Homo sapiens: one gene and its partners. The protein of the gene in region 2 interacts with the protein of the main gene of each other region in a biochemical or structural test. Each region holds a gene or a part of one and is shown on either strand. Other genes may lie near its edges.

The links. Proteins that work in one complex are often made in the same cells at the same time.
Region 1: the proteins of EGLN1 (region 2) and DLG2 interact in a test that uses a peptide from one of them, tested with the Homo sapiens proteins (one large-scale study listed by IntAct).
Region 3: the proteins of EGLN1 (region 2) and CARD11 interact in a test that uses a peptide from one of them, tested with the Homo sapiens proteins (one large-scale study listed by IntAct).
Region 4: the proteins of EGLN1 (region 2) and LIN7A interact in a test that uses a peptide from one of them, tested with the Homo sapiens proteins (one large-scale study listed by IntAct).

What each region holds. Positions count from the first base shown.
Region 1 is NC_000011.10:83,458,009-83,461,344, forward strand, and holds part of DLG2 (disks large homolog 2), read right to left. Parts: intron 1,917-3,336; coding exon 1,810-1,916; 3' UTR 1-1,809. UniProt on the Homo sapiens protein: Required for perception of chronic pain through NMDA receptor signaling. Regulates surface expression of NMDA receptors in dorsal horn neurons of the spinal cord.
Region 2 is NC_000001.11:231,415,788-231,419,287, reverse strand, and holds part of EGLN1 (egl nine homolog 1), read left to right. Parts: intron 1-3,500. UniProt on the Homo sapiens protein: Cellular oxygen sensor that catalyzes, under normoxic conditions, the post-translational formation of 4-hydroxyproline in hypoxia-inducible factor (HIF) alpha proteins.
Region 3 is NC_000007.14:2,939,368-2,942,867, forward strand, and holds part of CARD11 (caspase recruitment domain-containing protein 11), read right to left. Parts: intron 562-3,500; coding exon 382-561; intron 1-381. UniProt on the Homo sapiens protein: Adapter protein that plays a key role in adaptive immune response by transducing the activation of NF-kappa-B downstream of T-cell receptor (TCR) and B-cell receptor (BCR) engagement.
Region 4 is NC_000012.12:80,843,935-80,847,434, forward strand, and holds part of LIN7A (protein lin-7 homolog A), read right to left. Parts: intron 2,006-3,500; coding exon 1,796-2,005; intron 1-1,795. UniProt on the Homo sapiens protein: Plays a role in establishing and maintaining the asymmetric distribution of channels and receptors at the plasma membrane of polarized cells.

The DNA.
Region 1 (3,336 bases), on a different chromosome or scaffold from region 2:
CTAAGCTCCGATGTTCTTACTGTGAAGAAGCCCCATCACTCTGATGGCTCTATCTCTTGCTCTCCTACCCAGCCTACATGCTGGTTTGCTGCACAGTGTGGCAGAATCCCTGCCAGGTCTGGATGTACCCCAGAAATAAGGCGATGGGGCTTAGTCTGGGCATGCACAGAACCCAGAGTAGAGTGGTTATTATCACTGAAAAGTCTCTCCCCAAACACCATGGGCAAAAGCAATGCTGATGTCGCCATCCACTCTAAAGTGGGAAACCAACTCTTCTAGTTCAGTTTATAGGCTTTGGGAGGTTTCTTTTTTTAAATCATCGTTATTATAATTGTTAAAAAATAAACTTGGTCCAGGTGCAGCTCCAAGAAAGGCAGTTCAGTTGGTTGAGCTCAAAGTCATTAATTGTCTTTCCTTGTGACTCTATCTCTTTGCTCTGTACATAGAAACAAAAAAGTCTGCACCCCCTCACCCCCAACCAGACACTTCTCTTCTCTCTCTTCCTCAAAGAAATAGTGCATCTAGGAACAGATCTCTCATTGGCTCTAGTACCATCTCTGGATGTTACAAAACTCTCAGTTACTCTGTAAAACAAAAAGGTACTAATCCTAATTACTCATTGTTGGCCAAAATGCTAAATGGTCCTTTAAGAATTGTATGTCAGTAACTAGGAACAAAGTTATTCAACTATTTGCATGGCAGGCTCAGGTTATTTAACTAGAGGAAAGCAAAAACTTCCCTTTAGATCATTTGCATAAGTTTGTCTCTGAAAAGCCATCAGCATAAAAAAATGCATTAACCAAATGTCTTCCAAAAATATCCATGAGGGCAACTCATTAAGGGATGTGCTGCATGAGAGTGTATCACTAATGTGGAAGGGAGGTAAGTGAGGAAGAAGTCTTTGTCAGACTTAAAAGGAACTCAGATGCTCTTAACAGATCATTGGCAACAAAAGGGAGAGTGCAACTTTCAGGTCTTGAATTTGATCATCTGCTGATGTTGCATACATTTAGTCTTTCAATATTAGTCTTTACAAAATATTTCACAAAACTTTTTTAACCTATAGAAATTTGTTTCTATACATTTAATATATTTTTATTGTATAAATTATTCTCATCTTTAGTGCCTTCTTTCAGTTTATAAATGGCAAAATAGGCAATCAACAATCATAAAGCTAATCCCAGGTGGAATCCCCTCCTGTCAGTGAGGTTAGTCCTCCATACACTTGCAAATTTTATGAAATTCTTGTCTTTGCAGATGCCAGTCAAAAAACTACACACTTATCCTTCCCTGATAGTATGTCATCTCCAAAGGGATTCCTTTCTTTTTTCCTTCTTTCTTTCATTTGCTTGTTAAGAAATCAAAAGATGTGCATAGTTATAAAATTCAAAGTGTACCAATTACAGATGTGGGTAATGGGAAGGCTGATGAGGTTCGAGTGCTGGCAATTTTTCTTTAAAGCAAAAGACACAGAGAGCTCTGCAGCTAAATCAGCTCTGGACATCTGCTGGGGTGAGGAGGCTCTCATCTCATCTCTTGGGCAGAAAGCCCGTCAGAGGTTCATCCCTACACCTGGCACTTTGAGCAAACCAAAGCCTTCCTTCATACTGCAATGTCTTTTCTGTCCCACCCTTTGGCCCCTCTGTTTCCTTCATGGCTTCATACAGTTTGTGTTGTACATTCGTAAGAATTCACATTGACTGCAAAAACATAAATGCAACAAAAACATAAAAGCCTCCAAGTAGTATGTTATATATATTTTGTTCTTCTAAATGCTCTTCTGTCGTTGTCAGAGGCGCAGTAGCTAATTTATAACTTTTCCTTTGAGGGAATCCAGATGAAAGGCCCAGATTGCTCTTCAATAACAAGCTTGCATTGGTTATATATATCTTCTAAAGTATCTCCTTGGACAATAGCTGTAACAAAAGCAAACACACCCAGAATTAGAAATAATTTCCTGGATGGTGAAGAACAATCATCACTTACACATTGGAGGCTCAAATCAGTAGCAGATGACTCATCAGGAAGCTTCATATCATTTTTCATTAGTAAGAAGAAGCAGAAAATTCATATAAGCAAAGTTACATTCATGATTTTAAGAAATGCTTTCAATGGATATCCTGGATCAGTAACAAATGATTCACAGTCTTTGCACTTTCTACATGTCTGTCTGTAGTACTGGACAATTTATCACTCATCTATTTAACCAATATTTTATGGGTGCCTACTCTGAGCCAGGCACTGAGCTGGGCAATGATCAATTTTCAGACTGAGAGCTCCCTATTTAGAAAAGAAAACTGGCCTTACAGTCTGTATATTTACTTATTTTGGCAGCAGCAGAAATTCAGATATTGTAGACACCGAGGAAATAATGAAGATTTTAGAGGGAAGTTTAGTTAGCCTCCCAACCCTCAAAGCCCTTAATAGGAAAACCCATTAATTCCCCAAATCTCTGGTAACTTGAGATTTTTACCATACAGAGCTATTCATATTGAGAATACCATAAGTCCACTATTTATAAGAAACATAAACAGGAAGAAATATAAACAAACTGCTCAGTTGTGTATCTCCTAAAACACTAAGTCACTTGGAGTAGATTTAAGTACATTTTATTGTCTCATTTGAACAAAAGTTATCTTGTAGAAAGATTTCCAAAACACATCAGTATTATCCATATGACACTAGGTCTTAAAAATAAATTACTACTGAAAGATGATTTAGATATTTAAAAACAATCCTCAGAATATATTATTGTATTGTATACAAAATATAAACCACTGTCAAAATGTACACTTTTGTTTCTCCTACCTGGATGTTCTTTTAGGATGAAACACAGCTCGTATCTTGGTTACTGACAGAAAGATTACTTAATATTACCTGATTCAAGATATTTACAAACTGCTAAGGCACTGACACTTTCTATATTCTGAATAAGGTAAAAAATAAAACATCTAACTTCACATATGGTAATCCAGGAAGAAAGTTCTTGGGTTTTTTTTTTTTTTTTTTTTTTTTTTGAGACAGAATTTCACCCTTGTTGCCCAGGCTGGAGTGCAGTAGCACGATCTCGGCTCACTGCGACCTCCACCTCCTGGGTTCAAGTGATTCTCCTGTCTCAGCCTCCCTAGTAGCTGGGATTACAGGTGCCTGCCACCACACCCAGCTAATTTTTTGTATTTTTAGTAGAGACGGGGGTTTCACTATGTTGGCCAGGCTGGTCTCGAACTCCTGACCTCAGGTGATCCACCCACCTCAGCCTCCCAAAGTGCTGGGATTAGAGGCATAAGCCCAGCTCGAAAGTTCTTGTTTTTAAACCTCCGGGAACCAGGTGTAAGG
Region 2 (3,500 bases):
TAGAGCAAATGCTTCTCATAGAGATGCTATTAGGAAATAGGTACCTCCTTCCTCAAGAGTTCTAGTTGTTGGGGTTTTAAGTCACGTAACTGTACATATTAGCAGGTAATAAGGGACAGGATGAAGGAGGGATGACCTTTAAACTCTTTGGATTTGATCTGCTTATATTAATTTTAGGGACGCAACTTCAGGATCTATAAATGATATTCAGGAATTCCTTTCATTGTACTTCTTGGCTGAAAGAGGTTTTGGTAATCGTGTTTGAACATGTAATTTATTCCTAAAAAACAAGGGTGTTTGCTTTGTGGAAATGAGAAGGCAATCAAAATAACCACCCACCGTATATTGAGCAACCAACCACAGTGTGTTAGGCATCATATTAGGATCAATACAGATACAATCAGAGTATTTTTTTTTTTTTTTTTGGAGACAGGGTCTTGCTTTGTTGCCCTGGCTGGAGTACAAGGGTGTAAGCATGGCCCACTGCAGCTTCCACCTCCTGGACTCAAGCTATCCTGCCATCTCAGCTTCCGAGTAGCTGGGACTGTAGGCACACACCACCATACTTGGCCAAATGAAAAAAAATTTTTTTTGTAGAGTCAGGGTCTTGCTGATCATTTGATCTCGAACTCCTCGGCTCAGGGGATCCTCCTGCCTTGTCCTCCCAAAGTACTGTGGTTACAGACTTGAACCACCTCACCTGGCCACAATAATCTTAATTCTGTGAAGTGAGTAGTGTTATTCCTAATTTACATTTGAGGGATTTTCAGCTCAGACTTGGCAGAGGTCTACCACTTACTATAACCCTGGCTGGTGTTCAAACTTAAGTCATTCAGATATCAAACCCATGCTCTTTTTTAACTACGCTAGTTATAGGTAGAACATTAAATGAGATGTAGATTATTTAGCACACTGCTGGAACTGCAATTTGATACATATATTTTGTTGAAAGTGGGTGAATAGCACTAGCTTTATATGTGAGTAATCATACTCTATGGTTGGGCTGTGTAAAACTTTTTATTAGGTGACTGTACAATGTTTATTTCAGATAGTGGCTTAAAAGCCACTTTTGTATTTATCCACCTGAATTATGCGCCTGTCAGTATACTGTTAACAGATGTCAGAATATGGTTTTTTTATGTGATTGCAGAGGGAGACTTCAATTCAGAATTTTATCCTTCATAACATTATAGTGATTTTAAAAGTTATATGCAGCAAATGTGTAGTATTTTTCTCATTTCAACTTTCACAGCAGTAGGCAGGTGGTTGTATCCCTTTTTTTATAGATTAGAAAAGTGGGACTCAGGAAAAGTTAGTTCACTTGTTGGAAATTCTGCAGCATATTAGGACTTAAATTCAGGTTTTCTGACTAAGAATCTGATGTTCTTTTTTATTTACATCATGTATATTGCATGCTCTTTATGTCAGGGCATGGTAATCAGATGATACATGATAGTCTGTGGCCCATTCAGTGTAGGCTTTGTTTTCCCCTGAATTTCTACTTCAAACATGCTTATCTGGCCGCTGTTTATGCAACTACTTTAAAAAAGGAACCATAAGGGAAAAATGAAGTCATACAGGAGAAAAACAGAAATGTAATTGTAGCCACTGATACAACCAAGCTCCTGTTTCCACTTTCTCTGGTCTTTTTGGGATTTTCTCCTTTTTGCCGTTACCCTGCCCTTTGATCCTATGTCCTTGCTTATGCTTGTTTTCATCAAGAAGAGTCTCAATGATATGCAGTAGAAAGAAACCATGGTCTGCTGTTTTGTGAAGAGTAGTGTGCCTTGACTTGGGGGTACAGGAGGAAGAGGAATGCAGAGGAGTGAGGATCATGGGAAAATGTTGAACTTTTCTGTTGGAGTTTCTTCGCCACTATGAAGGAAAACATTTTCCCATTAAAATAGAAATACTAGAATCATATACATAACATTTTTGGAATTTAATCCAAAACTTCATCTGTTCCGTTAAAACATACATAAAGAAAAGGAGTAATAAAATAGGTTGGGACTAATAAGCAGCAGATTATATTACTAAGATTTTTCACTATTACTGTAGTTAATTAGTTAGGTCTGGCTGATTATGGCTTTTAGAGCAAAGAATAGGATGAGGAAAATGCAGCTGTTTTATTATCACTAACAGAGATGTGGTGAACAATCCTCTTAGATGTTAAAAACGAAACTGACCCAGGAAGAGAGCCCTCATCAGTACCAGACCATGCTGGCATCCTGATCTCAGACTTTCAGCTTGTAGAACTGTGAGAAAATAAACTTATGTTATTTAAACCTAAATACATAAGTACACCTTTATCTCCTTTTTCCATTCTCTTTGTATGCTTGGGATCCAGGATACACAAATTGAAGTTACTTGTTTAATGATTTTATAACTATGTCAGAATTTAAGTTAAAAGTGAGTTACTCTGTATGTAGAAAGGCTGAAAATAGTACAACTGCAGTAATTCTGTCAGCTATAAGGGACGTGTGGACTGAGAGGGTAGTCTTAATAGATTGTGATCAACTATATGTGAAAACATTTTGTGTAGTGAGTTGATGTGTAGTTTACATGTAAACTAACTCCTTTAGTTCGAAAGGAATTTTATTTTACGTTAAAAGATTATTTTAGGCTGGGCTTTAGTGGCTCACGCCTATAATCCCAGCATTTTGAGGGGCTGAGGCAGGAGGATCGCTTGAGCCCAGGAGTTCAAGACTGGCTTGGGCAAATGGTGAGACTTTGTCTCTAAAAAAATTAAAAAATTAGCCAGGCATGGTGGTGCGAGCCCATGGTCTCAGGTGGGATGATTGCTTGAGCCCAGGTGATAGAACAAAACCCTATCTCAAAAAAAAAAAAAAAATTTTTTTTTTGTATGTATGTAACTCTTTACTTATCTACTACCTAATAATCCACAAAAATACCCACAAATCCTTAATTACGTGGAGGAGGAGGAGATGATAATAGAGATCATTTTAACTTTGAAAGATAATGGATTCCGGGCCAGATGTGGTAACTCACCCCTGTAATTCCCAACACTCTGGGAGGCTGAGGTGGGACGATAGCTTGAGTCCAGGAATTCAAGACCAGCCTGGGCAACATGGCAATACCTCATCTCTATTAAAAAAAAAATTATTAAGAAAGAAAGGGGCCAGGTGCGGTGGCTCACGCCTGTTACCCCAGCACTTTGGGAGGCTGAGGCGGGTGGATCACAAGGTCGAGGGATTGAGACCATCCTGGCCAACCAACATGGTGAAACCCTGTCTTTACTAAAAATACAAAAATAAGCTGGGTGTAGTGTTGCATGCCTTTTAGTCCCAGCTACTTGGGAGGCTGAGGTAGGAGAATCGCTTGAACCCGGCAGGCAGAGATTGCAGTGAGCCGGGATTGTGCCACTGCACTCCAGCCCGGGCGACAGAGCGAGACTCCGTCTCAAAAAAAAAAAAAAGAAAGATAATGGATTTGGTTCTGCCATTAGATCTGGGTTGGATCCTGGGTCTGCTATGGTTTCT
Region 3 (3,500 bases), on a different chromosome or scaffold from region 2:
TTTGAGGTTGGAACAAGAGGCACGGAGCTTACAGTTGAGTTTCTTGGAATCTTTAAGGGCACGTAGGTTTCCTAGATGTCCTTGTCTCTTCCCACAGTGCCCAGGGCATTGATTTCCACGTGGTTGGTGATTTTCCTGGAGTGCTTCAAATAAGCACATGTTTTCCCAAGTATGATATCCTATCTCTGACAAATGGGTGGTGGGGGTCACCGCTTTACAGAGGAGGAGACAAAGGTGCCCAAGGATGGCACGCATGCCTGTGATCCTGCAGTCAGCATGGGTGAGGCTTGGGGACTCACACCCTGGCAGGTTCATCGTTTCCCCCAACCCCAAGCCCTCACCCTCCCACTGCCCGCGCTGGCCCCGCCCCCAGGCCCTCACCTGGATGATGGACTGCAGCTCCTGGTTTTTGGTCTTCAGCATTTCATTCTCCCGCTCCAGTTCCAGAACCTGCTCCTTCTTGGGCCGATTTTCAATGTCATTCTTCAGTTTTAGAGACTGATTTCTCTCCAGCTTACATTCCTCCTCCATCTTATTCAACCGGTGCTTTAGCTGATCGATCTGAAATACCCCAAGGGTGCCCAGGGGAGAAGGCAGGTGGCAAGAAACACTCAGAAAAGGCAACGCTTCCCCCGATCCCACTGGGCTGGCAGCATAACCTGAGTTATGCCCCTCTCTCCTTCTTCCACGGGCAGAGAAGGGCTCCAAGAAACCTTCTCCAGTAAAACAAACTGTCATCACCCTGTTGATGGAGAGTTCCTGATTAGTCTATTTAGAATAGCTCCAAAGGGGCTACAGGCCTCAGAGAAAATTCCCTCAACCTTTGTCAGGTGGGACAGGTTATGGATTTTGGGATAAAAGAGATCCAAGTTGGTGTTTCCCACTTCAACGCCCTTCTCTGATGGGTTTCAAATTCTGATCCTCGGAACTCAAGGATTCCCCTGAGGAATCCAGGGGTTACCCAGGGGGAAGGAGGAGATGGTTGACAAGTTGGGGTTCTGGGCATCCACACTGACTTCACATCCCAGAACAGCTCTGCTTGTGTGGTTTGTTCTTCTGGGTTTCACACAAGATTTTATTTGGATAAATAGCACTGTTGCTAAAAAGGAAGAGGAAGAGGAGGAGGAAGAGGAAAAAGAAGAAAAAACAGGAGAAGGAGGAGAAGAAGAAAAGTAGAGGAAGAAGAAGAGGAAGGGGAAGAAGAGAAAAGAGAAGAAGAGGAAGAGAAAGAAGAAGAGGAAGAGGAGGAATGAGAAGGAGAAGGAGAGGAGGAGGAAGAAGAGGAAAAAGAGGAAGAAGAGGAGGGGGAGAAGAAGGAAGAGGAGGAGGAGAGGAGGAGGAGGAAGGAGGAGAGGAAGAGGAAGAGAAAGGGGAAGAAGGAGAAGGAGAAGAAGAAAGAAGAAGAAGGAAGAGGAGGAGGAGAAGAAAGAAGAATAATAGGAAGAAGGAGGAGAAGAAGGAGGAGGAGGAGAGGAAGAGGAGGAGGAGGAGAAGGAGAAGGAAAAGGAGAAGGAGAAGAAGACAGCCTGAAATTCACTGAATTGTAATTTCACAGGATCTCCACCCTAAAGAACCTCCCTAGACTTAGTGGCAGAAAGAGTAGCTTCCTGGAGGAGGCAGCTATTGCATCTGGAAATGAGACAAGTGGAGATGTGCTGATTTTCACACTCAAGAGTTTAGTGTCAGGAACTGGGACCAGCAGAAGACTTCTTCAACCTGTGAGACTAACCTGTGTTCCTCCCCAAACACATCGGCTTTGCTAAAGTATCCCAAACAAGAAGGTTGCATTCGAGGGCTATAAAGAAAGGAGGCACCAAAGGGGAGAGTGTCATTTTTCAAATCTAGTCTTGGAAGGAGAATCATCTCAAGGAATCTGGCAGGTAGAGAGCAGTGGCTTTAGCAAGAAAAGACCAGCTCCTGCACCCCAGTGATTAACCTGAGACGATGAAGAAAGGGGCGTGCAGGAAGCAGCCCGAGGCCAAGAAAACCAGCCAGGGACTCTGCTGGCCAGATGTTCTTCCAAATTCTACTTACACTTTCTCACTATTAATGTATCTCCAGGGAAACATAACACAGGAGGAAGTTCCGGGAGAGAAACTTGTAAGTCTCTGCCACAGGGTAACTTCCCCAAATCCTAGGTAAAAACAGCATAGAAATCTCTCCTGCTCATGCAAAAAAAAAAAAAAAAAAAAAAAGCTCCTCAGCATCTTCAAAGCTTAACCCAAGTGTCCTGTGGTAAGTCCCGGGTCCCACACGAGCAGGCATGGGGCGCTAGCATTGTGGGGTGCTTACAGGGTCAGCCGCTCCGCCAAAGACCTACGGTTCAGTATCCCAGCAATCCTAGGGCACACGTATTACTTTCATTATTGACATCTGCAAATGAGGAAACTGAGGCCAATAGCTAAGTAAGTCGTAAAGCATAAAGCCAGAATTTGAACTCAAAGCTACAGGACTTACAAAGCTCATGCTTCTAACCAAAACACTATTGCCTGCTATGCCACTGACTCAATTCACCTGAATTCCCGGTGGATTGTTTACGGATCTGTCTGCTTCACTAAATTGTAAGTGACCTGAGCACAGCTCACGTTATTTATCCCCATGTCTCCCACAGTGCTTAGCACAGTGCCTCACACGTGGCAGGTGCTTAATAAATATTCTGTGAGTCTATTTTCCATCCAGCAGCCAGAGTGATCCTTCTCAGACATAAATCAATTGTCACTCTTCAGCTCTCAATCCTTCAGAGGGTTCTCATCACAACTAGAATAAATCCCAAAGTTCTTACCATGCCCCCATGATCTGGACCCCGCCATCCCTTCCACTCCCTTCTGCACCATTTGTTTATTTGGCTCTGGCCCCACTGACTCTCCTGCCATTTCTTTTCTCTTTCATTTGTTTCTCTTCCTTCCTTCCTTCCTCCCTCCCTCTTCCTCCCTCCCTCCCTCCCTCTTCCTTCCTCCCTCTTCCTTCCTTCCTCCCTCCCTCCCCTTCCTTACTCCCTCCCTCTTCCTTCCTTCCTCCCTCCCTTCCTCCCTTTCCTTCCTTCCTCCCTTCCTTTCTTCCTTCCTTCCTTCCCTCCCTCCCTTCCTGTCTTTTTCCTTCCTTTTTCTTTCTCTTTCTCTCTCTCTCCCTTCCTTCCTTCCTTCCTTCCTTCTAGTTCTTTCTTTTGACAGGCATGGCTCACTGCAGCCTCGACCTCCCAGGCTCAGGTAATCGTCCTGCCTTATCACCCCTAGTAGCTGGGACTACAGGTGCATACCACCATGCCTGGCTTATTTTTGTAGAGATGGGGTTTTGCCATGTTGCCCATGCTGGTCTCAAACTCCTGGACTGAAGCAATCCTCCCGCCTTGGCCTCCCCAAATGCTGGGATTACAGGTGTGGGCCATCAAGCTCAGCCTTCCTGCTGTTTCTTCAAAAACAAAAACAAAAACAAAAACAAAATGCCCCCTACTTATGGGCTTTGCGAGTGCTTTCCCCTGAGACTTGCATGGTTGGCTCCTT
Region 4 (3,500 bases), on a different chromosome or scaffold from region 2:
CCCTTATAAGAAAGCTCAAAGTCAACCACGTATTAAATTTATTATATATATATATATTCTTACTTTACACAATTATAATTACTGTTAATATACTTTGAAATTTTTTAAACTTTTCATACTGTTTTTAAATCTATACCTTATTTGATTTATATAATATATTCAGAGAAATTGCAAGTTCATACTCTGGGGCATAAGCCTCTATGTGACGCAATTGTGTGACCTAGCTCTAGAGTCCTCTACCAGAAAGTTAGACTCTGAAATTATCACTTGAAACATGCTTTGAAAAAGTCACAGTTATCTAAAGGTCAATAAAAAGCTTATCTCAAAACATTATTACATAGAAAAAAGTAAGTAGTAATTGGAATGCTGAAGTGATAGAAAATATTCATGGGTTGAGAATTTTGATATACATTAGAGGACAGCAGAGTTGAAGGAATAGTTTTGGGTTCTATGAAACTACTAGTCAGTCTAAAAATAAGAAACAAATGAATAAAATTCAAGATATGAATACAGAAGAATTTCATTCTACAGTTACCAATAAAATATCATGTTCCAATTACATTTGATTTTGGATATTGTGTCCCAAGCATAAATCAATCTGGCCACAAATAACTGAAATCGAGTTTATATATTAAAATCCTTAAGTTCTTAGAAAAAAGATCTTAGGTTAATCGAAAGGTAACATTGATAAGTTTCTGTTTATATTTCTGAAATGTATGCTTTTAGGTAATTTATGTTTAATATAAGTGGATGTTATAGGGAGAAAATGTTTGTTTCATAGGAAACAATTTCTTTAGCAACTCCTTATTACAAGTGGAAGTGGTGGCATCCAGAGAATATGTTATGAGAAAATGTATATTCATACTTTTACTTTAAAATGTTACATATTTTAATTTACTCTAATTTCATTTAAAAACGAAAGCATATATTATGAATAGGTAATTTAATCAAACTCTTTTTTGGAGGAAGGCTAATATGTTTTTATTATACTATAGCTGTAGATCTGGCTTCAAGAATTTTGAGGCCGGGCGCGATGGTTCACGCCTGTAATCCCAGCACTTTGGGAGGCCGAGGCAGGCGGATCACGAGATCAGGAGATTGAGACAATCCTGGCTAACATGGTGAAACCTCATCTCTACTAAAAATACAAAAATTAACCGGGCTTGGTGGCGGGCGCCTGTAGTCCCAGCTACTTGGGAGGCTGAGGCAGCAGAATGGTGTGAACCCGGGAGGCGGAGCTTGCAGTGAGCTGAGATGGCACCACTGCACTCCAGCCTGGGGGACAGTGTGAGATTCCATCTCAAAAAAAAAAAAAAAAAAAAATTTTGAGTGCATTAGCCTTTTTCATATGTGTTATTATTACATAAACATTAAAATTACCCTTCCTCTGTAATTAAAATGAAAAACCCACACACATTACAAAGTAAGGAGCTATATCTTTATTCTTAAAATGTATGTATTTGCTTATAGTAACTTAGGATAAAAAGTATCTTGAAATTACTGTATTCTTGTAAATGTTACTTGGAGTATTATGGGAAGAAAGTCAGCTAGTTGGATTAATTTCCTGGGATGTTTTTTCAACTCACTGATATTTATCATAACTGAACATAATGAAATGAGACATAAAAATTAGATTGCAGCTTTTATAGGTTTAATATCCATCAATGCTTAGAAAGCTGGTTAGACATAAAATGAATATTTATTCTAGGTTTTCAACGTTGACTTCAGTAATAGCAGGGGGCAAAAAAAAAGAATGTGCTTAAGGAGAAAATCTCTGGTTATTTTATAAACATACCACTCCGTTCACTGATAGCAGCTGGTCTCCTCTTTTGAGGCCTCCGTGTCTTTCAGCCACCCCTCCAGGAATTATGCGAGAGATATAAATGGGGGAATTTTGCTCCTTTCCTCCCATCACATTAAAACCAAGGCCTTCATCAGTCTTTGGCAGTTCAACTACTCGAGGGTGGGAGTGGCCTTCACTAGCTGCAAAAGCTGCAACTGTTGCCTGAAAAAAAAAAAAAAAGATGGTCTTTTGGTAATAAAATGAGGGAAATAAAGGCTAATCATATGCTTTGCAGTGGGTAGCTCAGGCAACTTCTCATATTTTTATAGTATTCTCCTGTGAAAGAAAGAACACAAAAAGCAGAGGACTTTCTTCATTTAGATGCCATCTAGGATTTCTTTCTTTGGTAAAGTCCCACTCATCTATTTCCAGCTTCCTAGGGCTTATCTGTTATGACAGAATTTTCCTGTCTTCATAAAAATCCTTTCCAGTTACCTTGGTTAGCTGCAATTCTTCCTATTCCTGGAGTCCAAATAACTTTGTTATATGTACTATCTACTATTATAATTATTTTATACATGTGTTGACTATGAGCACCTTAAGAGCAGAGATGGCGTCTTGCACTCTTTTGTATGACACAGAGTCTAATCTGGTGCTTGCACATAAAAGTTCATAAGTATTTTTTTAATAAATTGAAGAGCACTTGTATGTATACATACTTTTGAATACATATGTAATCTTGCTATTGCCAACCCAAAAGCTTAGCAAATTTAACTTTTTTAAAAAATTAAGGATGCCTTAAAGAGAATGAAAACTAAAATAAAATAATAGATTCAAACAGATTATTGTTAGCTTATACCAATATACCATATTATTATTCCATACTGAGAAATCTTATCTGGAACAGGATTTTTCTTCCTATATTATACATTAATATTTCAATTATTATAACAAAATAGGCAATATGAAGTCAATGATTTTATACCTAGATATACAAAACATCATTTAATATGGACATAATTTGTTTTAAAATTCATGTACTGATTTCATTAAATGAGTTCAAGAAAACAACTTACCATTAGTTCCCACTAACCCCATAGAAATAAAATAACAGCACTTAGGTAGTTTCTATCAAGAAATGATTCTGTGCCTGCTTATTTTTCACTTTTATTAATTCACCTTGATCACAGTTGATTAGATGCCTGCTATAAAGTGACTTACTCAACACTGTGAAAATATTTATTCCCAACGACTGTACCTTCTTTTCCACACACAGCATTATCACATCAATTTAGCATTATGCTACTGTCTGCATTTAGTGAAAGATAGTGAATGACATGAAAACAATGGCTTGTTTTTAGCTACATGCATTTGCTCATGCAAACCTCATTGTCATGCATAGATTTTAATGGCTGACATGGATGCAATGCAGACAGCCCAGAAACAACCAGAAAATACTGTGCTATTGCAACATTATGCTGCTATCCTGCTGTTCTACATGAATAAGAAATGAGAATGGTAAAACACTACACAATTCACTTTCCCCTTAATTAAACCACGTAGGGATCATTTTTCTGTGTGTGTTCCACTTCAGTACAAGCAAAGCATGACATGATGATAATAACACCCTCTTTTTTTCCCTGAGTTTAAACAAAACAAAACAAAACAAAAAAACCTTACAAATCTACAGTGTTCAGTTACAGAGTAAAAACTAAAA